Linked DNA regions of Homo sapiens: all the other regions are reported to be linked to region 1. Evidence: microRNA targets listed by miRTarBase, many of them from high-throughput screens and not tested one by one. Region 1 holds a microRNA gene; each other region holds the end of a gene's coding sequence.
Evidence for each region. The annotated mature microRNA hsa-miR-5685 reads ACAGCCCAGCAGUUAUCACGGG and lies in region 1 at 1,063-1,084, shown strand. An mRNA with a match to its seed (bases 2 to 7 or 8) in the 3' UTR can be bound and repressed. Matches are read on the target gene's strand: a 7mer-m8 pairs with bases 2 to 8, a 7mer-A1 pairs with bases 2 to 7 and ends in A, and an 8mer does both.

Region 1 (4,075 bases):
TTTTTCCTGCCAATTGTTAACCGGAGTTATTTTTACAGAGGGGGATGCTTTAGGTTTTATTTTATACCTTTCACATTCAAATTTTAATTTGATGTGTATATATTGCCTTTTTTATTCTTTTAAAAATATCAACAGGGATTGCCTGGGCAGTGAGGTTATGGGCCATTTTGTATTTTATACAATTTATTTTTAAAAACTCAACACTTATAATAATAAAGTTTCTGAAAAAGAGACAGTACCTTCATATCTGATTCTCCTGCGGTGCGTGTGCCCTGACAGAAGAAGTTGTATTTGCCTTCCCATACTCCTGTTACTAACTAAAAAAGAAGAAAGAGCCAGTCACCAACAGCATCTGAGCCATGTAAAGTCCTCATTGAACTTTATTAGTTGCAGAATCTGTGATAATTTACCTTGGGCTGTGCTGAGCCAAGTTTGCTCTGAGAAAAAACAATTGTAGGCAAGTGTAAACAAAAGGAAAGCTTTAATGACTTGAGTCTCAATTTCCTAAGGGGTGGGCTTAAAAGTCACTCCCAGGCTGCTGCCCTCAGAGACCTTCCTTTACCACGCTGCTTCTCTGCAGAACCCTCAGCCCGTCACCCCCTTGGTCCTAGCACAAGTGCCCAGACCAAGCCAATCACAGGCTCCCTGCTCTGCCCCACAGAAGCCTCTGGCTGCTTTCCCTAAGCCAGTGCTCCTCAAACTTGAGTGTGCAGCACCAGAATTACCTGAGGGGTGAGTTAGTAAAACATGGGTCCCTGGGGGTGTTTCTGTTCCAGTAGGTCTGGGGGCCTAGAATTTGTATGTCTAACAAGGTCCAGGTGATACTGATGCTGCTGATGTGGAAACCATACTTTGAGAACCACTGCTGTAGGCTCAGGGATAATTTAGTCCAACTTTATCTTCATTATTTCCTGTTGTTGTATGTACAATCCTCCGGATCCATGAATTAGGCTTCACAAACTGAAGGCTTCACAAGTGCCCATGCCTCAGAATCACTTGCAGCACAGTAGGCACTATGCTGTCACAGAGAGGACCCCAGAACTGGGGTACAGGCTCTACATCACAGCCCAGCAGTTATCACGGGCCCCTCCCCTCAATGGGCCCGTGATAACTGCAGGGCTGTGATGTAGAGTCTGCACCCCAATTCTTGTGTTCCCTGTCCTTGAACACAAGAGTTTAGCTTGGCGAGCAACACAGATTCCCCCCCAGGGAACAAGAGGTGATTACAAGGATCTGAAGACACCTTGTGATATTTCCACCTGGTCTGACATCAGAAATAAATGGCAAAAAATGGGTGTAGCCGCTGCACTCACGCTGGGTATCCTGCCTTCTATCTGATTTTTCTTTGGTTATCTTTCTTCTTGCCATTTTCCTTCTGCTTTGTCACCTTCTACACATAAAAAAGCACTGAGAGTTAACAGGCTTTTCATGGCCAAAGAAGAGCACAAGGATTTAGCATGGGAGAAGCATCAGTTCATGATGAAGAGCCATGGAATTAGGAGGAAGGCTTGAGTGCCAGGCCCAGCACCTGGGGCAAGCCAGCTAATTCCTGTGGGCTTTTGTTGTTTTTACTATAAAATGATGAGGTTGGACTAAATTATCTCTAAAGGGTCTGTTCCAAATTTCTGTAGCTTCATGTTAACAGACTTTAAAAACAGACCACACAACAAACTATTCTATACTATCTTTGAAAGATCAGTACCCACATGGTAATTCATTAGAAGGTGTATTAACTTTTCTGTCTTCTACTACTCTCTAAAGTCATGGCCAGTCAAGCAGGATCCATGCAGGCTGATCAGAAGTCCTAAGAAGCAAGACACAAAGTCTGAATCCAAAGTGCGTTGGAGGTCGGGGGAGGAAGCTGGCATGCACTCTTGAGACCTGGGGTGGAGAGGGAAGGGCCAGCTTAGCACAGTGCTCTTTTTGCTGCCCTTCTTTCTACCCCAGGAGGGAACCAAGGAACTACCTCCTGTGGCTTGAGGGTACAGAAAGGAAACTGGTGCTTCTTGATGAAATGTTTGTGGGACAACCGCGAATAAGAAAAATAAGGACAACGCAGTAAGGTTTTCATGAAGATAAATTCGTGCAATGTAAAAGATCCTCTTTTTTAAAACAGCAGCCTCTCTTGGCAAAATTAAAAACGTACTAACATATGACTGTCTTCATCAGAGATATTTTTGGAAATGTTACCATTTTATGAATCTTAAATCTGGAACCTACCATCACTGTTTTTTCCAGCGACTATTTTGGTTTATGGTGTCCAGAGACATCCTGGGTTGGTTTTGCTTTTGTCTGTTTTAAAATAGGATGGCTGGTGTGTGTGCACTTGTGGAGGTGTGGATGACTGCATTCATGAATGTCTATCTTGGCAGGGGTGGGGAAAATCAAGGTAGCTCTCTGGAGAAGAGGAGGACAAATCCTCTCTTGTAATTCTGCAGGCGCCTCAATCCCAAAGATGAGAACGGGTTGAAGGGGTCTTGTTAACTCAGCAGAAGGGACTCTTGGACACAGGCTTCCTTTTTAAGAAGGGATCCAGGTGGGATTGCCTTGACTCTTTAAACTAGTTAACCTAACGTTCCATTTGCCCTCTCCCCACCCATAAATGGGGCAGGGGAATCCATGTATAAAACACCTGTTGTCTTTGGAGTTTAGTTAAAGAACTCAAACCTCAGTATTGGGTGGTGAACTTTTTTCACTCCTGAAGCATAAACCAGGTATACACACAAGAAGCTGCTCACTCGGTGCCACTCCACTTGACCTAGGCCCACCATTCCTCTTCCACCTGTTGAGGTTCCCTGTAGGAGCTCTGTCATGCTTCAATGCAACACTCCCTCCACTGCTACTCACACCTACCACACTTCCACTGGGGCCGCTGTGCCCCTCAAACCACTGAATTCCATATTTCCATATTTAAAACCCTCCAGTGAGTCATCATTGCCTTCAGAATGAAACCCTGAATCCTAGGTGCAGTGTCCAGGTATTTAGTCTTCCACAACGTGGTCCCAAGCTTATCTTTCACTTCTCCCCTACGTGCACACAAATTGGACCTCTTCCCATTCTCCAAACATGCCCTTCCTTAACCGCTACACAGTAGCCAAGGGGAAAGAGCATGGGTTTGGGCATTAGCCCATTAAACCCTAGCTTTTTCACGTTTTGCTAGGTGACCTTAGCTAAGGTATTCCAACATTTTAAACTTCAGTTTTCTCAGTCCTCAAATGGGATAAACATAAGGCTCCCACCATGAAGTACATAATGCCTGTCTCACCCAATGTGGTTCATAGGATTAAACATAAGTGTTGGCAGTGACCACTGTTTTATTCTTTTCAACTAGAATGCCCTCTGCACCTATGTACCCCCATCTCCAGCTCTCAAAATCCTATCTATCCTTCAAAGTTCAGTTAAAATTCTATTTTCTTCATGATTACTCCCTTGAGCACTAGAGCCTGAGGTCTATTCTCCTTCCTCTACCCTCACCTTGCAGTGACCTGTAGCTGTTTGCTCACATGCTCCCTTTGTTAATGGGCCTGTTGTGTGCTCTTCTGTAAGATTTCGAAGGGTGGTGACTGTGGCTCCTGCATCTGCATCAACATATTCCAGCACAGGGATTAGCGTACCAGAGATGTCAAACAAATATTTGCTAAACAAATGACAAAGAGTTCAAGACTGCCAATTCTTTCCCCTAAATCTAGGCCTAATGTTTCATGTGCAGCAATAAAGAGAGCTTCATAGTATTTTAAACGAGGCTTGACTTTGTGATCATATTCATCTGAACTCTGTTCACAAGATGAAAACTCTTCATCATCAATTTCATAATGGGGTCATGGAAATTCTCAAATCTCCCTGGCTTCAGAAAGGATAGAATAATTTAACAAACCAAGACCAAGGACCTGAGTTGAAGCTTATTCACCTAAGACCCTCATCAAACCTCCATAAAATGGGCTAGCAGTAGAGGGCTCTACTCCCTCCATCCCCCTCAGAGGATAGCAATGTGTCCATGGGTAGTGGACTACAGAGGTGCTCAAAGCAAAGGACTGACCCCTGTAGCCCCACTAGGAGCACATCACAGGAGACAATC
Region 2 (4,075 bases), not on the chromosome of region 1:
ATATATATAAAAATCATATATGTGTATTTGATTTGGTACTATATGAGTTCAGGCATCCACCGGGGGCCTTGGAACACCCCTCGAGGATAAGGGGGGACGACTGACTATATGTATGTGTTGTGGCTCCTCATGACCTCCCATCTGCCTCCATTAGCATCTTCAGGGCAGACGGCTCAGCTCTTAGGCCCTTTATAGGGGGTGGGTTGCAGGAATCAGAGCCAGAGAAGGCTTGCTTTTTGCTTTTTCACCTAAGTCATTTTGTTATAACAAGGATTGGGAATCAGGTTTTTCATGCAAATTATACTTGCTATGAAACAGTTTTTCTTATAATCATGGGACAAACTTTCTTCTTTGTAGTCACTACCTTGTGACTGTGATTGGAATTTATGATTCTTTTATTCTCCGTATACCAAAGTCCATGCATGTTTTGGTCTTCCCTCAGAATCTAAAACTGGAAGGAACAGAGGACCTCTCTGATGTTCTTGTGAGGCAAGGAGATTGAGTTCACTATGGAGAAGTCAGCAGCAGGAGGCCCATCCCTTACTCAGTTGCCGGGACATCCCCAGTCTCGGGGGAAGAAGATGCCATGGGCTTATACCCAGGCTGTAGCCAACTACCAACGTGCCTGTTTGTTTGTTGCTCTTTCCTTCTCTCCATCATAGTCTGGGTGCCAGCGCCCTGAAGCTCCGTGCTCAACTGATTAAACTTTACTGCCCTATGGTGACCATCTAGGAGAGGGGAGGGCAGAGGGGGTGAGGGTACTATTCTGGATTGAGAAAACCTATATCCATTCTTTATATCAATGTATAGTTTTAGTCTCCTAAATTGATCTGTTATTTTCCAAACTATTCTCTTGTAGAAAATTTTCCAGTGGGCACTTAATGGTGCCCTTGAAGAACTTCCTAATCCATGTACATAAAATACATCATATGTACACTTATAAATGTATATAGAATGCTCAAAAATAAAATTCTTAATAATAGAACTGGCAAAATATTTGAGTGTCCACTAGATGAGTATCAGACCTAGTCCTTACCCTTAGGGGGATGCAGTCCTGGTTGTTATCCAGGATACACACCTGTCAGTATAAGGCAGAAGATGCCTAAGGGCCAAGATGGTTTGCCTCGGAGGAGAATGGAAGAGAGAGATTGCTGACTGGACATTCAGATGCAAGACTGGGTCCTGCTTAAATCCCAGGATTCTGCTGGAGGGAGCTGATAGTGATACTTGTCCCTTCTGTACATTGCTTCATGTAGCCTTCTCAGCATCCCTAGGAGAAACTTACTATTGTGACTCTCATGTTGGAGGAGGAAACGGACACCCAAGGTAGAGGAACTTGCAAAAGGGCAGCCGGCAAACTGTCAGGGGTGGCCTGAGCCTGGCAATCTGCCTCCAGAGTCTGCTCTCGGCCATTGTGCTATGTGCTACCTGGATAGGTCATACAGGCTCAGCAGTGGGTGGAGAGCAGTGCTCAGATTTGTCCATCTCCACAGAATGCAGCACACACACAAATGTACAAGTTCTTCCCCTAACCTCAGAGGAATAGGGGAATTAACTTTGCTTGCAATTTGGAACAATATTATAGATGTTGATCCAAGTAGTTCTGTTACTGGCTGGTCCTGGATCTCTGCCAGAACACCCGTCATCATTGACTGGCTAAATAGAGATCTTGGATATAGGCCAGAAGCAGTGAAGTATATAATTGGAAATTGCTCCTGATAATAACTTCCTTCTTAGCCAAAAACCACACAAAACAAAAATAATCCCCTCCCCACAGGAATATGCTTTCCAAATTGTGTCCAAAACATTACCTGCTCTGTTATATTGAGAAGGTTAGAGACTTCAGAGCATGCTTAGAAAAAGCAGTGGTGCCACAGGTGAGACTCCACACTCTGTCTTGCTGGGGCTGAAGCCTCCATCACTTTCCCAGGCCAGGTTAGTGCTGGGCTTCTTGCTTTCCTTCTATTCCTGAGAGTAGAACTGGCTAAGCCCATTCCTTCCCTCAGTCAGCCCCACTTCTCTATAGTGGGTTCTGGGGGTGGGGGGCTGAATTACCAGTAAAACTAGAAAGATTGGGACCAAGTGCAGTGGCCCACACCTGTAAATCCTAGCGCTTTGAAAGGAAGAGGCAGGAGGATTGCTTGAAGTCAGGAGTTCAAGACCAGCCTGGGCAAAATAGAACCCCATCTTTAAAAAAAAAGTTTAAAAATTAGCCAGGTACGGAGGTGTGTGCCTGTAATCCCAGCTACTCAGAAGGCTGAGGTGGGATAATCACTTGAGCCCAGGAGTTTGAGGCTGCAGTGAGCTGTGATCACACTACTGCATTCCAGCCAGGACAACAGAGTGAGATCCTATCTCTTAAACAAAAAAAAAAACTGGCGAGTTCAATACCAACTTCTACAATGAAATCCCCTTCCCCCCACAACCCTGCTTCTCCTAAGTTTCCCTCATTACATGGTTGCTGTGGGCTATGTGTGCTGTGGTCTGAATGTTTGTGTCTAAAATTCACATGTTGGTATTAAGAGATAGGGCCTTTGGGAGGTGATTAGGTTATGAGGGCAGATCCCTCGTGAATGGGATTAGTGCTCTTATAAAAGAGGCCTGAGGAAGCTTGTTCGTTCCTCTTGCCCTTCTGCCATGTAAGGATGCAATGAGAAGGCACCATCTGTGAGCAAGGAGCCCCTCACCAGACAGCAAATCTGCCGGCGTCTTGATCTTGGACTTCTCAGCCTCTAGAACTGTGAACAATAAATCTATTGTTTATAAATTAAGCAGTCTAAGTCATTTTGTTATAGCAGACAAATTGACTAAGACAGTGGGTATGCAAGATAAGTTTATTTTATATAAAATACTTTGGGAAGTAGGTGTTCTAGGACTGGTGTGACAGTTCCATGAAATTATGAGAGACCGGGGATCCTTCCAGCTCATCCTTCTGTTTCAGTGTGGCTGCTGGAATCCAGCCATCACATCCATAGTCTAAGCAGCAGGACGAAGGACTGGGGGAAAAGAGAACTGCTGCTCCCTGTTAAATCAGTTTCCTGGGGGTCGATATGAATATTTGCCACCTCAGGGTGCCACAAAGGTCCCCACCAGCAAGAAGGCTCCCACCAGATATGGACTCAACCTGGGACTTTTCAGCCTCCATAACTGTAATAAATTCCTTTGTCAGTTACCCAGTTTCAGGTATTCTGTTATAGGTAACAGAAAACAAACTAATACAAGTGGTAATGTGTCCAGCTAAAAATTTGGGTTCTGTTAAGGTTAAAAGAAAATTTGAGGTAGCCAGCAGTATCTGCCTCAGATGCTGAGAAGCCTCCTGAGATAAGAGCGTATACCATGTCCATAACTGAAGTTTTAACATTCTCTGCCAAACAGAACCAGAATTTAAGGGCAGGAGAATTTGCAAGATAGAATTTGCAATTTGCAAGAGGGAATTGCAATTTGCAAGAGAGGGGCAATTTGCAATTTGCAAGAGAGGGCAATTTGCAAGAGAGAATTGTGGGGCCCTGAGAGAGAATACATCCAAAGGAAGAGGGAACCAGGCATTACAAATTGAATTGAACAAGGACAGATATCTGAAGGGGGTTTGTAGTTCCCAGTAAAGTATGGTACAGCTAGGTGCACTTCCCTGGCCAGACCACCCTACAGTGTATGATCCCCCTGGGGAGCAAAAGGCTGCAGGTAACACTTTGGTGCCCTAGAAATTCTGCTGTGGTGCAACTATAGTGGATCACAGGCAGAGTGGGGCATTGTTCCCCTTCTTAGCACAGGATACTGGGTCATTTCAACACCACAAGGATTTGCAGCATCTGCGGCAACGAGTTTGGTGTCCTGGAGCAAGGAAAGGAACCGTTCATGGTGGCTGAAGCCAAGCTGCTCAGCACTGAGGCAGCAAGCCATGATCTAGGTCTTCGAGTAGAATTCTCAGTTTTGGTTCATTTAAAAATGTTTTTTGGGGGAATTGGGGATCATTTATGGGTACCAAAAGAAAAAAAAATGAATAAGATCTACTATTTGATAGCACAATAGGGTGACTATAGTCAATAATAACAATTGTATATTTTAAAATAAAGAA
Region 3 (4,075 bases), not on the chromosome of region 1:
GACTTAATATTTTTCACTACCTTTGGAGAACAGATGAACATTATTCACCATGAATGGATCTATACTGTGTGGTCATGAGTTGTGTATACTTCCATAACACTGTATTTTTCTTCTGTCAGTACCCTTAGGATACACTTTAAAACACCTTAAGGTCTGATGTTATGGCAACAAACTACTTTTTCAAACCTAAATAGGAACCATGTAATTTCTCAAAAGTGATTGAACAGTTTGCCCACACTTAGTTTGTTGGTCTTATGTAAAACATTGGCTCAAAATAAAGTACACACTGATTTATTTTACTGTTTGAAATGTTTCCTTTTAAACTGGTGCTCAAAGAAGACATCAGACTTCATAACCAAGAATTTTATTACAATTTCAAATCTCATTTTAAGCAATAATATAAATGTTCTAAAACATTTGCTCACCTCTTGCCAGTTACCTTTGCATTGTCTGTCTTAAAGCAAAAATATAAAATTTAAGGGTGGTAGTTTTAATATATTCTGTGGGTCCTAAGGGATGCTTTGAATTTGAAGTATATATACTTTTAATAAAATTCAGTATGACAGTTGTCTTCTGCTTAACCCATAAAACTTTATTTAAAAAATTTAACTAGATGGTACAAAACATTCATTGGTATGCACATAATTCTGTATAGTTTTGTTATTAAATGCTAAATGACAGTGATAACAATGGCTTAAGCTTTACAGTATTCTTGTAGTTCCCTAGTACCACTTAGTATTTAAATATTGTCATATTAGCTTCAGATTATCATGTAAATGACGGTAGAGGAATAAGAGAAAAGGCTTTCATTGGTTATCAGTTTTAAATTCTGAACAAAAGAGACCATACACTGCTCACTACAAGAATGCAATTTTCTAAGAAAATGTAGTTTAAAATGTTATTCTGAATATCTGCCAAAGAATTATATTGTTATTACTAGCTAGAACCAAGATGTTGAAGAAAGCAGTTTCTACATTCTGGATGTAGTAAACAAGCCTGCCTGTGTAATCCAATTATCTCTTCACTAATGAGTAGATAAGGTGCCTGTTATAGATGTTCTGGTATATAAAGAAAAAATGTAGGCCAAGTGTGGTGGCTCACGCATGTAATCCCAGCACTTTGGGAGACCAAGGTGGGTGGATCACTTGAGGTCAGGAGTTTGAGACCAGCCCAGTCAATATGGCGAAACCCCGTCTCTACCAAAAATACAAAAAGTTAGCTGGGTGTGGTGACAGATGTCTGTGGTCCCAGCTACTAAGGAGGCTGAGGCAGGAGAATTGCTTGAAAACCTGCAAGGCGGAGATTGGAGAGAGCCAAGATCGAGCCACTGCACTGTAGCCTGGGCAGCACAGTGAGACTCCATCATATATATATATATAGCACTTCATTACCAGAGGCCTCTTGGCCTGTTGAAAAATGAAACCAAATATTGAAAATTAAATCAGAGTTTAAAGCAGCTATTTTGGAAGAGCTGCCATTAGGTAGAAAGTATCAAAATGTACAAAAGAAAGTTGTATGGGAGTTGAGTGGAAGGTAGGATTTAAGAGCAGCACTGCCCAATAAAACTTCCTATAATGAAAATGTTCTATAATGTATGTTGCCCAGTACAGTAGCCACTAACCACCTGTGATTTGAACACTTGACAATGTGGCTAATGTAATTCGAAAACTGGATTTTAAACTAAATTTACTTAAATAGCCTCATGTGGCTAGTGGCTCATTGGACATTGTAGTTGTAGACGTTTGAGACTGTTGGTTTTAAGTTGGACTTAATCACTTTCCTACCCAAATTCTACCACTCCTTTAAGAACTCCTTTAGAACTCTTTTAGTTCACATAATACGCCATATTTTTTTTACTGTGCCTGTAGTTCTTCAAGGAGTGGTACAATTTGGGTAGGAAAACCAGGCAGGAATTCCAGGGTAGTGTTCAATATTGACATTAGTAATAGTCTATCAATAATAAAATAGACATCTCAATCACTATACAAAATCTCAGAAATGTAAAGCTCTTACAGAGCATGCTTGTGCTTGTGTAACAGCTGGTGTAATGCCTGCATTTTCAGTACCATGTAGCCGCACTGTTAATAGTTTTCTATCACTTTTTAGTTACTCATGTCTCATTAATGATAGTGCCATTAATTGTGATGAGTGTTTTCGATTCATGTGGTCAATAAAAAGAGACTACACAAGCTGGAACTTTGTTGCCATTAGTCAAGCTAGTGAGATAGTATATCTATCTATCTCCCCAGAAGAAAGTAAGATAATTGATGGGGTGTGGATTCAGAAGAGGGATTACTTTTCTTTGAGCCTCAGACTTCTAGACAGTATACTTCAGTCAGTAATGGACCACATATAGAACAGTGTTTCCTTAGTAGACCATATTTTTACTGTACCTTTTCTATATTTAGATACACAAATATTGTGTTACAATTGTCTGCAGTATTCAGCACAGTAACATGCTGTGTAGGTTTGGGACAAAATAGGCTCTACCATCTGGGTTTGTGTAAATACAAGCTGATTTTCACACAAGATTCCCTAACTATGCATTTCTTAGAACGTATCCCCATTGATAAGTGATACGTGACTAATTTACGTGAAATTTATACATTCTTTATCTTTCCTGTTTTTGGTTTATTGATGGTGAGGAAAATTACTCGTTTCAGCTTTTTCATTTTTTTACTCCCCAAATGATTTTCACCTTTTTCTTAAAATGTACAATAAATGCACTGAAAACTTTGATCACTGTCACTACAGTTGTACTTAAGTGTTTTTCTTCGGTTTTTGCTTGCACAGTTTTCATGTCATTGAAGGAAAAATTTATAAATGCTTGAGGAGAATGAGATACATCTTGTATAGGGGAAAGTACAAAAGGTATGGTGGCAAGAGAGAAATCCTTAAAGGGGCACTATAATATGTAAGTGTTAACCTAATTGCCAGCTTTCTCTATGCCATCCTGGACACAGCGATCATATTTTGTTTCAAATAATTTATAAACATTCATTAAAACTTGAGTCATTTGTGATAAAATGGTGTGTGTAAAAGTAATGAAACTAAAATTGGTGTGGGGTGTTAAAAGTTGTAAAATTTTCTTCATCTAAATCATAAAAAGATACACATTCTAGAGGAATTATCTGCCAAAAAAATAACAATTATCAAAGATATTTAAATGTATGGGATGTACTTAAAATCACTTATTCCCCATTTCATGTTTACTAATAAACATATAAACTAAAGTGGGTCAACTAAATAGGGAAGATACAGCAGGCAAGACAAATAGGCTGGGCTTTTATTTTTATCTGCTTGGGCTTTAAGCTTTCCTTCATTCAAGTGACAGATTCTGCCTTTGACGGGATGCTTAAAATCACTATATTAGATCTAAGATCATTTCTAAAACCTGTTTTTTTAATGAACCTAAAGACTTTTCACAGCAGATGAGTACATAAAAATGTTACTGGAATAAGGAATACCATTAAAGCTCTAATATCCAATGTCAAGTTTTATATTAAAATCTTTCCCAAGTTATCTCTGCCAGGGCATTTTGTTGATGTCTTAGTGCAAGATTACCAAAAACTTAGTCAAATTGAACAGGATATTCATTTTCTTCTCCAACTACCAAAACACAGTCTTCATTATAAGGTGATTGGGGTGCGGTTGAAAAAACTGTGGTGAAACGAGAATCAGAATGTTTTTTGTACAGGAACCAAATGATTGCTCCCAAAACTGTCAAAATTACCGTGCTAGCAATCACCAATGCTGATATTAAAATGTGGTTATCTGAAAAGGAAAAGACAAAAGAGTATTTGGGAAATTAGGGTACACAAGTTGCAAGTATATTTTGATGAGCACAACTGTAGTTTTGTGTAAACATTTCTCTGTGTTGAGAATTTCCCACACTGATGAGAAAACCAAAAATTTCGCATTTGTTACTAACAAGATTTATATTTCTTAGCCTGAAGAATAGTACTCAAATTTTCTAGGAAGTTGTGCACTTCTCCACTCTACTGAAGACCCCATAGTGGAAATCACGCAAGTATATACCATGCTCCAGTTTGTCTTCCTTCGCTTTACTTTCTGA
Region 4 (4,075 bases), not on the chromosome of region 1:
GCCCTGGAAGTTGGGTTGTCAGGGTGAACAGGCAGATCCTGATAAATGGAGGGGGACACAAGAGGCCGGGGAGCTCTCTTCCCGTGAATCCAGCGCCGGGTTGGGCCATGTCTCCTCCTGACTGGTGCCCCCTTGTCCTCAGGGACAGCCCCCAATTCGCCAGTGAGCCTGCCCGAGTCGCCAGTGACCCCAGGTCTGGGCCAGTGGAGCGATGAGTGCACCATTTGCTATGAACACGCGGTGGACACGGTCATCTACACATGTGGCCACATGTGCCTCTGCTACGCCTGTGGCCTGCGCCTCAAGAAGGCTCTGCACGCCTGCTGCCCCATCTGCCGCCGCCCCATCAAGGACATCATCAAGACCTACCGCAGCTCCTAGCCCGTTGCGGTGGCCCATCCCGCATACCCATCTTCTCGGGCTTCAGCCCAGTCCCAGCTGAGGAACAAGCCAGTGGGGCCCCTTCTCTTCCTCATTTTGGAAACTTTTCCTCCTCTATTAAACATGGGAAACTGAAGCCCTTGAAGGTTTGGGGAGAGGGGGGTATCAGGCAGGGAGGGGGCAGAGGCAAATCACCGGGCAGAGGGAGGGGAGGAGAGGAGGCCGCACTCTCCCTGTCTCTCCCGTCTCTGCACCCAGCTCCTCTCTGCATGCTGAGGGCTAAATTGGGATCTCAGCCTGCCCTAATCTTTCCCCATCTGAGGCAGGTTTCTAGGAGGTGTCTGTAGTCCATGTGGCACCTTTGTGAGAATTAGAAAACATGTACCTTCCTCTGGGCAGCTGCAGCCCTGAGCCAGGACATGTGGCCTGGCTAGTGCAGCATGGAGTGGATTTTAGGCTCATTTGCCCTCTCAGCCAACTGCCCTTGAGCAGTGTACAGCCTGCTCAACAACCGCCCTGGGCAGGCCGCTCCTGAGCTGCTGTCTCCCTCTCTGACCTATGCCTACCTTCTCTTTCTTCGTTCCCTGCCCACTGGGCATGGCAGCTGGGGGTGAGAGGCTGGTGGTTGCCTCCCGTCCTGGGCAGGCTGCAGCCTCATGCCATGTCTCTCTCCCACTACCTGATGGGCACATGGACAGGCTGCAGAGGGCTCCAGGTTCTGGGCCCCTGGCTGAGAAGGGGAGGATCCTGTCCTGGCTGTAGCCTTCCTGCCCCAATCATCTCGCTGGATGCCATTGCCCAGGGGTAGCCCTTCGGTATGGGCTGGGGAGAAGGGTTGGTCTTCTGCCAGGGTCCCTAAGAACAGGTTTGCAGCTACCCTCTCTGACCTTTTCCCCATATCTTGTGCTGTCCAGGGCCTAGGCTGATAGTCAGAGCCTGTGGCACACCTGGGATGGGCCAGGGCCCTGGGTGGGGAGGTGTGGGTTCCCTGGGCCAAGACCAGCCTTTTTCCTCAGTTTAATTAATTTATTTATTTGGTTTGTGGTTTTGGGTTTTTTTTGTTTGTTTGTTTGTAGGTGAGTTCCCATCCTCTGGGCCCCTAGAAATGCTGCCTTTGTGTGTGGGGTACCTGGGAAAGGGTGTGGCTGAGGCAGTCATAATGCAGTATCTTCCCCTGACTCCAGCCACAAAGCTCATACCCAGCCCTACCAATCATGAACTGGAACTCCATAAGGAGGGGCCAAATTGGGAGGCCTTTTGGCAAACAGTGTCTATTTTACAGAGAGGCAAACCAAGCCTCCTTAGTGCCCTGGGGCTGATGGTCACCCAGAGCCATAGAGCACCCTTCCTCCTGGGCCAGAGCTGGGTTATCATGGTTGGCTTAGGTACCTCAGGTGGCCCAGGAGGTCCCCCCTCCATAAGGACGTCAAACTTCCAGGAGGGCCAGTGTTCCTAGTGTGGGCCAGGAACAGGACAGGGAGACCTTGTGATGGCGGGGCAGGGAGCCTGTTCGTAGGGAAGATGAGGAGGCAAGGGCTGCCTCTCACACCTCCAGGTTCTCTAAGTTCTGGGGAGGGAGCGCCCCACCTGCTGAGGTCGGTCCTCTCAGCCCTGCCTGCCCTGGCCTGGGCTCTCCCAGCCTCCCAGCCCTCTGCCCCCTCAGATGGCTTTTTGTTTTTGTTTTTTTTTGCATCCATCAGAGACTGCACCTCTGTGTGGCAGGCAGGGCATGGGTTTTAGTCCTGGCCACTGACCAGCTGTGTGGCCCTGGCCGAGTCGTAGCCCCCTGGAGCCCAGCTTCCATTTCTATAAAATGGTTGTTTCGGGAGAGAGGGGCAGGCTTTCTGTGTGACTCGGGAGTTCTTCCGTGAGGGCTGCCAGGGGGTGGTGTGCCAGGACCTCAGGCTGGGCCTTTGTGCTGGCCTTGCAGTGGGTGTGTGGGGAAGTCACTGTCCCACTATGGGTCTCCACTACCCAGTCACTGACCCTGGGAGACCCCTTCTGTGTGGGAGGGAGCGGGGGCTGGCTAGCGGGCCCCCCAGCCAGGGATCCCAGAGGCTGAGGGTTGGGGAGAGGAAGCCATCATCTCATTACCTCTGTCAGTGCAGGGGTGGCTGCTGCTTCCCTTGTGCACTTGGGTCGCTGTGATTGTGAATAAAAGTGATTTCGTACCAGCCTGAGGGCGGTGCTGTGCGCAGAGCACTGGGGAAGGAGGGCCAGCGTGTGCGTGCACATGTGGGGGCAGGCTGGGGTGTGGAGGCCTGGTGTCCTGGATACTAGGGGAGTCATCAGGAGCTGTGGCCCTTCCCTGAGGGGTAATTGCAGGCCTCTGAGGCTTCAAGGTGGGCTGGGGCAATCAGGGAAGACTCCCTGGAGTCGGGGGCTGGAGCGTGACTTGGGTCTAGAATGCCAGGTGAGCCTTGCAAATTGGGAGAGGCTACTGCATCTGTGAGGAGCAGGGTGTGGTGGGGAAGGTGCCCTGGGATGGGGCTTCTCCTTAAGGCTGAGCAGGGCTCAAATCTGCCGCTTGTAGGGGGGTGCGCAGTGCCACCTAGGGGGCTAATGGGAGGATGACAAGTGGTCAACTCAGGTCATCAGGGGCTGTGCTCTGAGCTCCCCAGGAACAAGGCTTCCACCCCTCTCCCCAGGCTCAGACCCCCACATCTGGAGGGAGTTCAGCTGTGTTCCCACTGGTGGGTGCAGAGGCCTATACCAAATGGGTGGTGCCACTGAGGAGAAAAGGGAAGCCTCTGGATAGAGTCCTTTAGAGAAGTGTTCTAGATGCGCTAAGTGATCCGAGTGGTGGGGAAGGCTGAGGGGAGAGGGGTGGTGGGGAGGAGGCAGCCAGACTGGCCCCAAGGTCTAGGCACAGTGTTGGAATTGAGCTCATTTGGCAGCACCAGGCCTCAGAGGCACATGGGATACCTGCCTGCCCATCCTGTTCCAGGGAGGATGCTCAGGCTACCCAGCCTCTGCATGGCCTTGCACAGCCATGGCCTGTTCCTTGCATCAGGGTTACCTGGTCCTGCTTACTGGGGTCCAGCAAAAGCAGGAGAGGGTCGGGGGGCCATGCTAAGGAGCCAGCTAGGCCTGCTGGATGTGGGTCCTTGGCCCCAAGATCTGCATCTTTCAAAGCCTTGGCCACTGCCCAGAAAGCCTCCCAAAAGTGGGGAAGAGGCTGGAGGAGCTTGACCACAGCTCTCACCAAGAGTGAGAGCTGGCTCATGTCTGTAATCCCAGACTTTGGGAGGCTGAGGCAGGAGGATTGCTTGAGCCCAGGAGCTTGAGACCAGCCTTGGCAACATAGCAAGAACCTGTCTCTACAAATAATAGAAAAATCATCTGGGCATGGTGGTGCGCCTGTAGTCCCAACTACTCAGGAGGCTGAGGTGGGAGGATCGCTTGAGTAAGGGAGGTCGAGGTTGCAGTGACCTATGATCATGCTACTGCACTCCAGCCTGGGTGACAGGGTGAGACCCTGTTAAAAAAAAAAAAAAAAGCGAGAGCTTACCTACCTGCCCCCACCCTCCAGTGTCCTTTCTTTCAGAGGGCCCTGGGATCCTGAAGTCCACTTTGCAATTTGGGATAATGGGACATTGGCTGTTCAGCTGGATGGGTGTTTTTGGTGACAGGGAGAATTAAGAGGTGATTCCGTTCGGTTAAAAAGGCCCAAAACTTTATTTAGTTTTCAGGG
Region 5 (4,000 bases), not on the chromosome of region 1:
GAGTGAGGAGGGGGCCTGGACGGGGCAGGAGCGACGGGGGGAGTGAGGAGGGGGCCTGGACGGGGCAGGAGCGACGGGGGGAGTGAGGAGGGGGCCTGGACGGGGCAGGAGCGACGGGGGGAGTGAGGAGGGGGCCTGGACGGGGCAGGAGCGACGGGGGGAGTGAGGAGGGGGCCTGGACGGGGCAGGAGCGACGGGGGGAGTGAGGAGGGGGCCTGGACGGGGCAGGAGCGACGGGGGGAGTGAGGAGGGGGCCTGGACGGGGCAGGAGCGACGGGGGGAGTGAGGAGGGGGCCTGGACGGGGCAGGAGCGACGGGGGGAGTGAGGAGGGGGCCTGGACGGGGCAGGAGCGACGGGGGGAGTGAGGAGGGGGCCTGGACGGGGCTGGAGCGACGGGGGGAGTGAGGAGGGGGCCTGGACCGGGCAGGAGCGACGGGGGGAGTGAGGAGGGGGCCTGGACCGGGCAGGAGCGACGGGGGGAGTGAGGAGGGGGCCTGGACGGGGCAGGAGCGACGGGGGGAGTGAGGAGGGGGCCTGGACGGGGCAGGAGCGACGGGGGGAGTGAGGAGGGGGCCTGGACGGGGCAGGAGCGACGGGGGGAGTGAGGAGGGGGCCTGGACGGGGCAGGAGCGACGGGGGGAGTGAGGAGGGGGCCTGGACGGGGCAGGAGCGACGGGGGGAGTGAGGAGGGGGCCTGGACGGGGCAGGAGCGACGGGGGGAGTGAGGAGGGGGCCTGGACGGGGCAGGAGCGACGGGGGGAGTGAGGAGGGGGCCTGGACGGGGCAGGAGCGACGGGGGGAGTGAGGAGGGGGCCTGGACCGGGCAGGAGCGACGGGGGGAGTGAGGAGGGGGCCTGGACGGGGCAGGAGCGACGGGGGGAGTGAGGAGGGGGCCTGGACGGGGCAGGAGCGACGGGGGGAGTGAGGAGGGGGCCTGGACGGGGCAGGAGCGACGGGGGGAGTGAGGAGGGGGCCTGGACGGGGCAGGAGCGACGGGGGGAGTGAGGAGGGGGCCTGGACCGGGCAGGAGCGACGGGGGGAGTGAGGAGGGGGCCTGGACCGGGCAGGAGCGACGGGGGGAGTGAGGAGGGGGCCTGGACGGGGCAGGAGCGACGGGGGGAGTGAGGAGGGGGCCTGGACGGGGCAGGAGCGACGGGGGGAGTGAGGAGGGGGCCTGGACGGGGCTGGAGCGACGGGGGGAGTGAGGAGGGGGCCTGGACGGGGCAGGAGCGACGGGGGGAGTGAGGAGGGGGCCTGGACGGGGCAGGAGCGACGGGGGGAGTGAGGAGGGGGCCTGGACCGGGCAGGAGCGACGGGGGGAGTGAGGAGGGGGCCTGGACGGGGCAGGAGCGACGGGGGGAGTGAGGAGGGGGCCTGGACGGGGCAGGAGCGACGGGGGGAGTGAGGAGGGGGCCTGGACGGGGCAGGAGCGACGGGGGGAGTGAGGAGGGGGCCTGGACGGGGCTGGAGCGATGGGGAAGAGAGTGCGGTGGGGTCCCTTGGTTCCCGTCCCCAGGAAGCCGGCGAGATGGAACTGGCATCTATCGGGCCCTGACCGTGCTGGGGGCTGCACCGGCTCGGAAAGAAACCGATCAGTGCAGGCACCAGTGCTTGACGGTCAGCTTGGGCCTGGGATCCTGACCCTGCACCCGGGCTCTGAGAGGGAGAACTGTGGCGTTTGCTCAGCCAAGCCCGGACAGCTTAGCCGCCAGCCCCCTCCACCTTCCCGCAGCCCTTCTCTTCCCCAGAGGTCAGAAGCCAGGCAGGAAGACCTAAGAGGGGCTATCTGTTGAGGCCCCAGGGAGGGAGGAAGCCTGTCCCTGCCCTGAGGGCCTGACCCCAGGCTAGGTCTCAAGAGAGGCTGGAAGCCAGAGGCCTGAGGCCAGTCCCGTTGCTGACGCGGATGTGGTCCAGCTGGGGCCCTGACAGGTGTGGCCACTGGTGAGGCCAGAGGTAACCGGGCTGGGAGGGGGGTGCATCTTCAAGCCACACCTCCCCAGACCAGCCTCCCTCCCTCCCCATCCATGCTTGTGTGGGGTCCTTGTGGGCAACTGTCACCCTTTCCCACCCCCACTGTCCTGGGAGGACTGGAGGATGGGGTTGGGTGGTGACGCCAGCTTCAAGAAGCAGCAGTTAGTCGCTGGTCTGTGCTGCCAGGACCCCGGGCCACGGGCCTTCCTGCTCCCGCCACTCCTCCCACCGCCTGAACTTGTGCTGAGATCCTGCACCCAACCAGCTGATGCCTGAGCGGGAAAGGATTCTAGGGCCAGATCCGTGCTGGCCTGGCCAAGACTCTTGGAACCACCCTGCTGTCCCGGGCTGTCTCTGCTGGAGCCTCTTTGCTCCCGCCCCCTTTGCAAGTGTCTGACCCGCATCCCACTACTCCCGCTCCTCGTCCCTCTGCCTCTCCAAGAGCTGTGCTCCCACGGCCTTCCCTCTGGCCTCACAGCCACCACCACGTCCCCCCTCCTCACGTCCAGGTCAGCCCTCAAGGGAATCTGAACTCCTCCACGACCAGAAGCCACACAGAACTAGCTCAAAGGTCCCCTTCCCAGGACACCGACTCCCAGAGGACCCAGACCCAGACCTTTCAGCCCAAGGAATGGGATGATGTCAGGGGTTCCAGGTGGAGACGAGGACTCCCAGGCCCAGACTCATGCCTTGCCCAGCCCCAGGAGACGGAGTTTCAGAAGCATACCTGGGACAAGTCTAAAAATCAGATGGGGACTTTATTGTGATGGTGGCAGGTCCACCAGCAGATGCAAATGTGGGGTGCTGAGAGTGGCAACACAGGCCACCCCAAACCAACTTCACTCCCTCCCCTGTCCTCAGCCAGTACAGAAGCCAAATGTAGCCCCAGCCCTAGACTCCAGCCCAGGCAGAGTCCAAGGGAGGGGTGTCAGGGTCAGAAGTCACAGGGAGCCCAGTGACTATCAAGGTGGCTGAGAGCAAGGCTAGGGTAGGGATGGGGCAGAGAAAGGGCAAGGGGTGCAGCCCCAGGTGGCCCAAAGCAACACAGAGGAGCAAGGGCTGGCATTCAAGTCAGCAGGTCCCTGGGGAGAACAGATGGTGCCTGGAGTCCCACATGGTGGTACAGGTGGGGGAGCTCTCGGTGGCAGGCAGCACCCCAGGAGGAGTGGGACTCCTGCCGAGGCTGACCCCAACTTCAAGGCTGCCAAGTTCTGATGGGAGTGTCCTCCTCCAGGAACATCTCCCAGCCCCCGACGAGCAGAGCCCTGGAGGAGTGGGACTCCTGCCCTGAGGCTGACCCCAGTTTTGGGGCTGCCAGGTTCTGATGGGAGTGTCCTCCAGGAATGTCTTCAGGCCCCCAGCGGGCAGAGCCCAGAAGGGTCTGAGGGCATGATGGGCATCAGTGGGATTTTGGTTGTGCCAGGGGTGGGCAGGGCCACCCGTGAGCAAAGGCCGCAGGGGTGGGGGCTATGCTGCCACCAAGCCCCTGGGAGAGGGGTGTGGAGGCGGCCTCTGCATACGCCCAGGCCAAATTCCAGGAAAGCGGGACCAGCCGCTGGAAGGGGGGTGAGCCCCGGAGCATCAGGAGATGCCCCGAGGAGCACAGACAGGAGAGGTGCAGCTGCTGGCCCAGCCAGGAGCCCAGGGCCTCCCTATTTGCAGTTCTCCTTCCGGAACCCTGGAAGCCAAGGGCGCCAACGGGTTGGCGGCTGTCCTCCACCCTCATCACAGTGGGAGACACAGGGCAGACCCCCCCGCAGGACTCCCCAGGGATTTCTGAGCCTGAGGTGGCAGGGGCCCCGGGCCTGGCTGGTGCCTGCCATCGTTGGTCCCAGGTGAGGTGGAATGGGGACAGGCAGGGCTCTGAGATGGGCTGAGGTCGCCCCCGCCGCTCACCTTTGTCTAGGTCGATGTACTTGGCAGGCAGGGGGCTGTGGGCCAGCTCCGCCCTCTCCTTCAGGATGTTGTTTTTGTAATCTGTGGGAGGAGAGGAGGCTGAGGTCCCCGCTCCCAGGATGCACTTCCCAG
Region 6 (4,075 bases), not on the chromosome of region 1:
CATGAAGACAATGGAAAGTTATTTCCTTCATCCAGTCTACAAATACCCAAGGACCATAATGCAAGAGAACATATCCACCAGTCAGATGAACAGAAACTTGAAAAACCGAATGAATGCAAATTTTCTGAGTGGCTTAATATAGAAAATTCTGAGAGAACAGGTTTGCCTTTTCACGTTGATAACTCTGCTTCTGGGAAGAGAGTGAACAGTAATGAACCATCTTCATTATGGTCTTCACACCTAAGAACTGTTGGGTTAAAGCCAGAAACTGCTCCTCTCATCCAGCAACAAAATATCATGGATCAATGTTACTTTGAGAACTCTCTATCCACAGAATGTATAATTCGGTCAGCCAGCAGATCTGATGGGTGTCAGATGCCAAAACTTTTTTGCCAGAATCTACCACCCCCTTTGCCACCAAAGAAATATGCTATAACCAGTGTGCCACAGTCAGAGAAAAGCGAATCTACACCTGATGTCAAACTTACAGAGGTGTTTAAAGCTACCTCTCATCTTCCGAAGCACAGTTTAAGTACAGCTTCAGAACCAAGTTTAGAAGTGAGTACACATATGAATGATGAAAGACATAAAGAAACATTTCAAGTGAGAGAATGTTTTGGCAACACACCAAACTGTCCATCCAGCTCCTCAACTAACGATTTTCAGGCAAACTCAGGTGCCATTGATGCATTTTGCCAACCAGAACTAGACTCTATTTCTACCTGTCCAAATGAGACAGTTTCATTAACTACCTATTTTTCAGTTGATAGCTGCATGACGGATACATATAGATTGAAATACCATCAGAGGCCCAAGCTCTCTTTTCCAGAGAGCAGTGGCTTTTGTAATAATTCACTATCTTAGAGTGAAAAAGGACTAGACCTGTGTTACATAATAATCTTGGTTCAAGCTGCCCTTCTGAACAAAGATATAAACCTAGCATACATTGTAATAGATAACTGGTAAAACTGACCAACTTTTACTTCTCAGAGGCCATTTAAATATAATAGGAACCTACTGACCAAACCTAGTGATACATAAAATTAAAGCCTGTGGCATTTTTAAAGTTGTTAATCACTATACATATGTATGTGTATATGTGTATACACATATATAATTTTATGATCAATATCTTAGATATTTTAGAAATTCCCTTTGAATAGTCTTGGCGTGCCGTGAAAAATAGAAAATCAGGGAGATATAATAATTCATTTGTCATATGCTACAGTTGAATAAAAATTAAATTTGTCCCCCTATTTTGTGGCCAGTAGACTGGGAAGTATTAAACTAACCAGTACTCATGTATGGAGATTATAAACTATGCTAATTGAAAAGTACCAGGTGATACATAGCCTGGTACTTTTTTGTCAAAGAATTGCTTTATGAAGAAGCACTTTCTAATGGGTAACCAGAAAAGGGCTTCACCCATTTGTTTTTGACTTCTATGATAGTCACTGCATATGATCCCTTTAAGTGTCTTTAAAAAAAATGACTTATGAATTTGATAGCATTTGGGGAAAAAAAGCCTTATATGATTAACAATTTGTAAGTTTTCAAGATCGGATGGAATTTAATTTTGCTCCTAGAATTTTTGTCTTCAGAATATCTAGTTAAGATAAATTAGGCCTTTGACTATTATAGGTATTCATAAATGCTACTTTAGCCATGTAAGTTAAAAAGTTAAAATACTTAAACTTTAGTGTATTTATTTATCTCGTTACTTTTTTTCTAATTTTATATGAAATGTGAAAGGTCTTTATTTTGGTTTGGTTTACTTTGGGCTGCTAACCACCAGTGTTAGGAATTAATGTAGGGCACCCTCTTATTGGGAATGTCACTGTAATTGCCTACATTTTCTTTGCTGTAATATTACCTGCTTATAGGTTGTCAACCCATTTTATCTGAATTTGAAAATCTATCTAGGTTTCCAGATTAAATTTCTACCTTTCATATAGAGAGTTTAATTTTAATAAAATGTTTAATTAGAGCATCCTTCCCTTTTATTCTACTTTGAACAAATAGTAATTTTACCCCAACTACTTTTCATGAAGAGTGCTTTGAAAATTAAAGGAATTTTTATTATTATGGTAACCTTATGAGTAAAAATAAGTTACTTTAATTGCTTTATTTCGTTAGTTGTCATTTTATTTTGTACTATGCTGGTAAACTAATTGTGGTTTAGAATAGTTTTATGTTCACTCCTGATAACTGAGAAACAGAACTAAAGTTTTCCTTACATTGCTAAATGGATAAACCTCATATTCAATAAACTAGTAAATGTAGCCACTTGACTGATTGCGTAAATCGTGTTAAAACATTCTAAAATGTTGTAACTAATTTAATGTGAATACTGTTAAACAGAAAATAATTGCTTATAAAAGTCTAACTTCACCCAGTTACCAAGTCTTGGCCAAATTTTATCTTCTGCCTATAGTTTTTACTAGCCTTTTTAAACTATAATAGTGAGTGATCATTACTTTATATTCTCGTAAGTTAGAAATACTTGAATGCCAAATTAATTTTGTTTTAAGAAAGCTTATTTTTAACATAATTTTTTAGTGTGGAGGGTTTGTAAATAATGTAAAGTTTGTAAACCTGTATTTAAAATACCAAAGTTTTTCTTCTTTTATAACATTGTAAGATACTAGAAAAATGGGCTTCAAGTTTTTTAATAGCTTTCACAGTTTGTGTAGTTTTTTTTTTCTATTTGGTTAAGATGTGAGTTGGAAATGTATTATTTGAAACATTTAAACTAATTTTTGTATTTAACAGCAGTCTCAGACATTTGTCTTTTCAACTCAGTTGAGTTGTAGATATCAAATAGAAATGTCCAGTTTTGCCTCTTTTAAGTACTGTCCAGTTGAAACCTCCTGACTCATGTACTACTACACAAACTAGAAAATGCCCATTTATTTTTGTTGATTCAACACTCCAGATACAGATTGATACATATATACTAATCATTTTATTTCATGTAAAAGTTTTACATCTAGGGTGCCTATTTATTTTTATAGATGCTTTCATCCAGTTATAAGCTTATTATAACTTTGTAAATATTTCAGCCAACAGTTGTAATGTTTAAAATACTTACCTTCAGAATGTTATATTTTCATGTGAAATCAATTTCTTCTAATTCAAAAAAATTTTAAGATAAACTGATTTTTAAGTTTATATGATTGGACTTCTCTTTGCATTCATGAACTGTGTGTCACCCTCCCACCAACGTGGATTATTTTGGGACATGTTAAGTCGCGGGTACTTGGAATTTCACTGATCATAAACGGTTATCACAGGAGATCCTAGGAGTTAAACTCCAGCAAGGTCTAAAGCACAGCTCCTTAGAAAAGGAGTTGGCAAACTTTCTATAAAGATAGAAAATAATTTAGGCTTTGTGGACCATAATATTTCTGTAATAACTACTCAACTCTGCCTTTGTAATGTGAAAGCAGCCATAAACAATATGTAAATGAATGAGCATGGCTGTTTTCCAGTAAAACTTTGTCAACATAGAAATCCAGATTGCATATAACTTTCATGTCATGAAAGTTTTTTTTTTCTCCATTTTAAAATGTAAAAAATATTCTTAGCTCACAGGCTGAAGTCTCCAAATGTACTCCCATGCCACTTACGGACTGAGTATTTGCAGCTCTTTACATCCTAAAACGTTCAGGTTAAGCTCCCTAAAAACTATCCCTTGCAACTGCTAACAAGCCAGTTCATTTCAAAAGGAACTACTAAAACAATCATTTCACTTTATATAAAATGGTGTGAAATTTACAAAAGAATTTATCAGAGTAAAGTCACATTTTCTTTTGATGTCTTTTTTGTTTTGTTATCTTAGCAAGTTTGCAACTTTTCTTGGCGTTCCATTTATCCACTTCTTAAAAGCCTTCAAACTGAGGGCAATGTAAGCAGTCACTATACTTGCTATGGCACAGTTTAATGGTAGGTACAATTTCTTACCTATAGGAAAGATTCAGCCTTCATACTGCCACCATTTTGAAAATGCCAATTACAGTCATGTCATATTACTAAGTCAGGGTTTGCCATAGAAAGAGAATCAACAGGATATATA
Region 7 (4,075 bases), not on the chromosome of region 1:
CCTCCTGGTGACGGACTACTTGCCTGGGGCTGTGCACAGCTTCTCGTTGGGTCCTGCTTGGGAGCCCCTGGCCCCAGCCTCCATGCTGGGTCTGGAGGGCCCCTGCTGGGTGGGCCCAGGGCCTGATGGGGGCCTTGCTGTGAGTGAGGAGTTTGGGGATGTGAGGCTGTTTGGCAGTGCCCGCCAACCCCTGGGCTCCCTGGGGGGCTGGACGGGGCACACTTTCGGCTGCCCAGCGGGCATCTGCTCCAACTCAGAGGGCAATGTTATTGTGGCAGACGAGCAGAGGCGCCAGGTGACCCTGTTTCCCCGGGCTGGGCCACCCATCTGCCTGGTGTCAGAGGGGCTTGGGCAGCCCTTGGGAGTGGCCTGTGCACCCCAGGGCCAGCTCCTGGTGGCTGATGCCAAGGACAACTCCATCAAGGTGTACCAGGGCCTCAAGGAGCTGGCCTGACCTGAGGCTGGGTTGGAGCAGCCCTCCTGTGCCTGAGGCCAGCTCCCAGGCCCTTGGATCACCGCGGGAGGAACCCTCAGGATGGGTGGAGCCTCCAGGCTATGGGCATTGCCTGCCTGATGCCAGCACCACCTGGGCTGGGCCCTGGGCTTGGCTCGAGTTCTCCTGCTGGTGAGGCTCCGGATCTCAGGAGCAGCCCTGAGTCTGCTTCCCAGGCTGCCCCTGCCAGGCCTGCAGCCTCCCCAGCCAGGGCTGCTCTCTGCTGTCCCCATTCAGTGCCCTGGCCCCTGCATTCATGCCCCCCACACCCCCTCAGGCCCTGTGCCTGGACTTTGGGGCTGGCAGCTGAAGCCTTGAGATCCTGGGCCAGCTGCCGGCACACAGCTAGGCAGACTCTCCCACCAGGTGCCCCTGCCCAGGCCTCCTAATCGGGGGCAGACAGGCAGGGAGGGTGTGGCTGGGCTGGGCTGGGCGGGGCGGCCTGGGGCAGGGGTGTGGCCCCTAAATGTCCCCAACCTCAGAGGGACCTAGAGTCCTGAGCCTCCAGTAGCTTCTCTGGGCCTGGCAGAGGTAAGGGGGAGGCAACCCTGGAGTGTCTGGAGGCCCATGGCTGGCTGAACCCTGGATGCCTTTTCTTCCGCGTCCCCATGAATGAAAGCTGTCTGGGCCTTCATTCTGCAGACAGGGACAAACAGCTCCATGCTGTTTGTCCTCCCAGTGCAGCCGTGCTGGGAGGGTCTGGGGGAGCTTCCTACAAGGAGAGACTCCTGCTGCTTTGGAAAACTGAGAAAAAATAGGGGTCTAACCCTCTCCTCCCATTTTACAAGTGGGGAAATGAGGCGTGAAAGGAGAGGCGTCTGGGTTACTCCGTGGGTCTGGGGTCCAGGGAAGGGCCTGTATGGGGGAGGGAGCTGGGAGGGGACGGTGTCTGGCTCTACCCCTGTGGGGTGGGGAGGTGGGGCTCCCCTGTATCACAGGACATCCCCCCTGAGAGGTCCCTCATATGTCTGGGTCCTGTGGGTGGGGGACTAACTGCGCAATGTAGTTAGGTGCTCAATAAACGGAGTTGCCGCTGAGGTCTGGGCTGGGGTCTTGTTCCTGGGATCGGGAGGGGCTGGACGCCTGTGTGTTCTCTCCTGACGATCGCTGGCGGCAGCCTCTGGGCTGGTCCTACCAGGGCTCAAAATTCCCGGCACCACTGGCCTTGGGGATCTGGGGGCGGCCCCTCTGCAGACAACAGAGTGACGGGGGCGGGACCGGGCTGGGGCTGGGGCCTTCCTGGAATCCCGCAGGGCCTGGGGACCTGTTCACTTGGGGAGGCTGGGAGCCAGGCGGGGTCCGGGTTCCACGAAGGCCAGGTCCAGTCAGTTTCTCAGGTGAGGAAACCGAGCTGACGCGGGGCTGGCGGCCCGGAGGCAGGCTCGGGAGGTCCGGGCCTGGGGACTGGGCGGGCACGCTGCGCCGCGGAACGCTCGGGTCGGGCGGGCGGGCGGGCAGCCCGGGCGCCTTTGGGGGCCGGACCGTCGCGCGGCAACGCGCGGAGCCGGCGGAAGTGGGGCTCGGGTCCCGCGGCGGGGCTGGAGGCAGCGAGCGCCGTCGTCTGCCCGGGCCCGCCCATCGGGGTCCCCAACCCCATCCGGACCCCGCCGCCCGAGCGCGCGGCCCCGGAAGCACCCGGTGAGCAGGGGGGGTGGGCGGCGCGCGGCGGGACCTCGGGCAGCGCCCCTGCGGCTCCGGGCCTGGGCTGGGGGCTCCGCACTCCCGCCCGCGGCGCCGCTGCTTTCTCCTCCCAGAAGTGGGGCCGCCCCCGGGCCCGCGCCGACCTGGGCCCCTGTGGACCCTGTGCAAGGGCGGTCGGCGGCCCGGGCCTGGCTGTGGGCCCTTCGCAGTTGTCCCGGTTTGCAGGAAAGGGCAAAAAACGGAATCGTAGGCTCTTCCCAAATGAGAGGGGAAGGCCCTGCTTGAGGAAGGCAAGCAAGTTTGTTTGTTTGTTTGTTTTGAGACGGGGTCTCACCATGTTGCCCAGGCTGAACTCGTGTTTGTTTTTCATTATTTATTTATTTTGAGAGGGAGTCTCGCTCTGTCGCCCAGGCTGGAGTGCAATGGCGCGATCTCGGGTCACTGCAACCGCTGCCTCCCGGGTTCCAGCGATTCTCCTGCCTCAGCCTCCCCAGTAGCTGGGATTACAGGTGCCCACCACCACGCCCGGCTAATTTCTGTATTTTTAGTAGAGACTTGGTTTCACCCCCATCGAGGCTGGTCTTAAGCTCCTGACCTCAAGTGATCCGCCCGCCTCGGCCTCCCAAAGTGCTGGGATTACAGGCGTGAGCCACCGCGCCAGGTTGGTGTTTATTTTTCAAACAAGGCGCTGGGAAACGCAAATTCTCCAGAGCTCTTGTGGAGCGGTGGCAGGGAGGGGCGGCTCAGCCAGAGATGGCCCTGGCCCGTCCTAACTGGGCTGGGGTGCCCCCATTCCCTCATTCACGGGGAGGAGAGGGAAGTCTTAGTCTTACTACTTTATATGGTCGACCTCCCTACCTGCCTGGTCTGGGAATGGCTTCTCAAGAGCACTCGGGCTCATTCTTAGCAGAGGAAGCTCTTCTGGCTAGCCTGGCGCCCGTGTGTGTGTGTGTGTGTGTGTGTGTGTGTGTGTGTGTGTGTGTGTGTGTGTGTGTGTGTGTGTGTGTGTCTGGCTAGCCTGGTGCCCGTGTGTGTGTGTGTGTGTCTGGCTAGCCTGGCACCCGTGGCTAGCCTGGCGCCCGTGTGTGTGTGTGTGTGTGTCTGGCTAGCCTGTGTGTGTCTGGTTAGCCTGTGTGTGTGTGTGTGTGTCTGGCTAGCCTGTGTGTGTGTGTGTGGCTAGCCTGGCGCCCGTGTGTGTGTGTGTGTCTGGCTAGCCTGGCAACCATGGCTAGCCTGGTGCCCGTGTGTGTGTGTGTGTCTGGCTAGCCTGGGACCCGTGGCTAGCCTGGTGCCCGTGTGTGTGTGTCTGGCTAGCCTGTGTGTGTCTGGTTAGCCTGTGTGTGTGTGTGTGTGTTTGTGTCTGGCTAGCCTGTGTGTGTCTGGTTAGCCTGTGTGTGTGTGTGTGTGTGTGTGTGTGTGTGTCTGGCTAGCCTGGCGCCTGTGTGTGTGTGTGTCTGGCTAGCCTGGTGCCCGTGTGTGTGTGTGTGTGTGTGTGTGGCTAGCCTGGCGCCCGTGTGTGTGTGTGTGTGTGTGTGTTTCCTCAGTCTTTAAAGATGCTCACGTTGCTTTCTCCCGTCCCATACCTCCTCTGCTATCGATCGCTTCTCTTTCATCTTCCTCTGGCTGTGTGATCCCAGCAGCTGCTAGTGCAGGCTTCTTTGTGCCGCCGACCGTCCCAGAGGCTGAGGTGGGAGTGTGATGGGCGTTTGCCCCACAGTACGTTGAGTTTTCTCTCACTACTCGACAGAGAAGAGTAGCTTCTGCCCTCCCATCTCCTTCGGTAGACACAAGGCACTTTTTTTTTTTAAGGTAAACTTTGTAGATGAAGCACAAAGAATACACACAAAGAAAGCGCACAGATCGTGAGCACGTAGCTCGGTGAATTTACCCAAAGTGAGCCCACCGCAGAACCAGCTCCCCCTAGAACATCTGTTTACTGTT

Region 2: the mRNA of NCAPH is a reported target of hsa-miR-5685. Seed matches in the 3' UTR shown: 7mer-A1 at 1,904-1,910 and 7mer-A1 at 2,044-2,050.
Region 3: miRTarBase lists CD302 as a target of hsa-miR-5685. Seed matches in the 3' UTR shown: 7mer-m8 at 1,167-1,173.
Region 4: the mRNA of NEURL1 is a reported target of hsa-miR-5685. Seed matches in the 3' UTR shown: 7mer-m8 at 1,200-1,206 and 7mer-A1 at 1,694-1,700.
Region 5: miRTarBase lists MXRA8 as a target of hsa-miR-5685. Seed matches in the 3' UTR shown: 7mer-m8 at 2,872-2,878.
Region 6: the mRNA of USP53 is a reported target of hsa-miR-5685. Seed matches in the 3' UTR shown: 7mer-m8 at 1,778-1,784.
Region 7: the mRNA of NHLRC4 is a reported target of hsa-miR-5685. Seed matches in the 3' UTR shown: 7mer-m8 at 588-594, 7mer-m8 at 913-919 and 7mer-m8 at 918-924.

The regions. Positions count from the first base shown.
Region 1 is chr6:53,275,940-53,280,014 of GRCh38, forward strand. MIR5685 (microRNA 5685) reads left to right here and starts at 1,054; the gene lies at 1,054-1,132. It overlaps ELOVL5 (ELOVL fatty acid elongase 5), which reads right to left. Exons shown (of 8, transcript NM_021814.5): 4 at 240-317.
Region 2 is chr2:96,372,850-96,376,924 of GRCh38, forward strand. NCAPH (non-SMC condensin I complex subunit H) reads left to right here. Exons shown (of 18, transcript NM_015341.5): 18 at 443-4,075. The coding sequence ends at 502. Among named protein-coding and RNA genes, the nearest start is that of NCAPH, 39 kb to the left of the region's middle.
Region 3 is chr2:159,768,280-159,772,354 of GRCh38, forward strand. It overlaps CD302 (CD302 molecule), which reads right to left. Exons shown (of 6, transcript NM_014880.5): 6 at 349-3,774. The coding sequence ends at 3,572. MARCHF7 (membrane associated ring-CH-type finger 7) reads left to right here. Exons shown (of 12, transcript NM_001282805.2): 12 at 1-2,748. LY75-CD302 (LY75-CD302 readthrough) reads right to left here. Exons shown (of 38, transcript NM_001198760.1): 38 at 349-3,774. The coding sequence ends at 3,572. Among named protein-coding and RNA genes, the nearest start is that of CD302, 28 kb to the right of the region's middle.
Region 4 is chr10:103,589,992-103,594,066 of GRCh38, forward strand. It overlaps NEURL1 (neuralized E3 ubiquitin protein ligase 1), which reads left to right. Exons shown (of 6, transcript NM_004210.5): 6 at 143-2,555. The coding sequence ends at 381. SH3PXD2A (SH3 and PX domains 2A) reads right to left here. Exons shown (of 15, transcript NM_001394015.1): 15 at 4,036-4,075. Among named protein-coding and RNA genes, the nearest start is that of NEURL1-AS1, 75 kb to the left of the region's middle. RefSeq lists an enhancer at 2,421-2,715.
Region 5 is chr1:1,349,980-1,353,979 of GRCh38, forward strand. It overlaps MXRA8 (matrix remodeling associated 8), which reads right to left. Exons shown (of 10, transcript NM_032348.4): 9 at 3,869-3,949; 10 at 2,712-3,650. The coding sequence ends at 3,625. Among named protein-coding and RNA genes, the nearest start is that of DVL1, 2.6 kb to the left of the region's middle. RefSeq lists a silencer at 1-60 and an enhancer at 3,518-4,000.
Region 6 is chr4:119,292,348-119,296,422 of GRCh38, forward strand. USP53 (ubiquitin specific peptidase 53) reads left to right here. Exons shown (of 19, transcript NM_001371395.1): 19 at 1-3,171. The coding sequence ends at 864. ARLN (allregulin) reads right to left here. Exons shown (of 2, transcript NM_001001701.4): 2 at 4,072-4,075. Among named protein-coding and RNA genes, the nearest start is that of ARLN, 6.3 kb to the right of the region's middle.
Region 7 is chr16:567,966-572,040 of GRCh38, forward strand. NHLRC4 (NHL repeat containing 4) reads left to right here. Exons shown (of 2, transcript NM_001301159.2): 2 at 1-1,530. The coding sequence starts at 83. The coding sequence ends at 454. PIGQ (phosphatidylinositol glycan anchor biosynthesis class Q) reads left to right here and starts at 2,003. Exons shown (of 11, transcript NM_004204.5): 1 at 2,003-2,131. RefSeq lists silencers at 1,870-2,029, 2,100-2,319 and an enhancer at 2,950-3,844.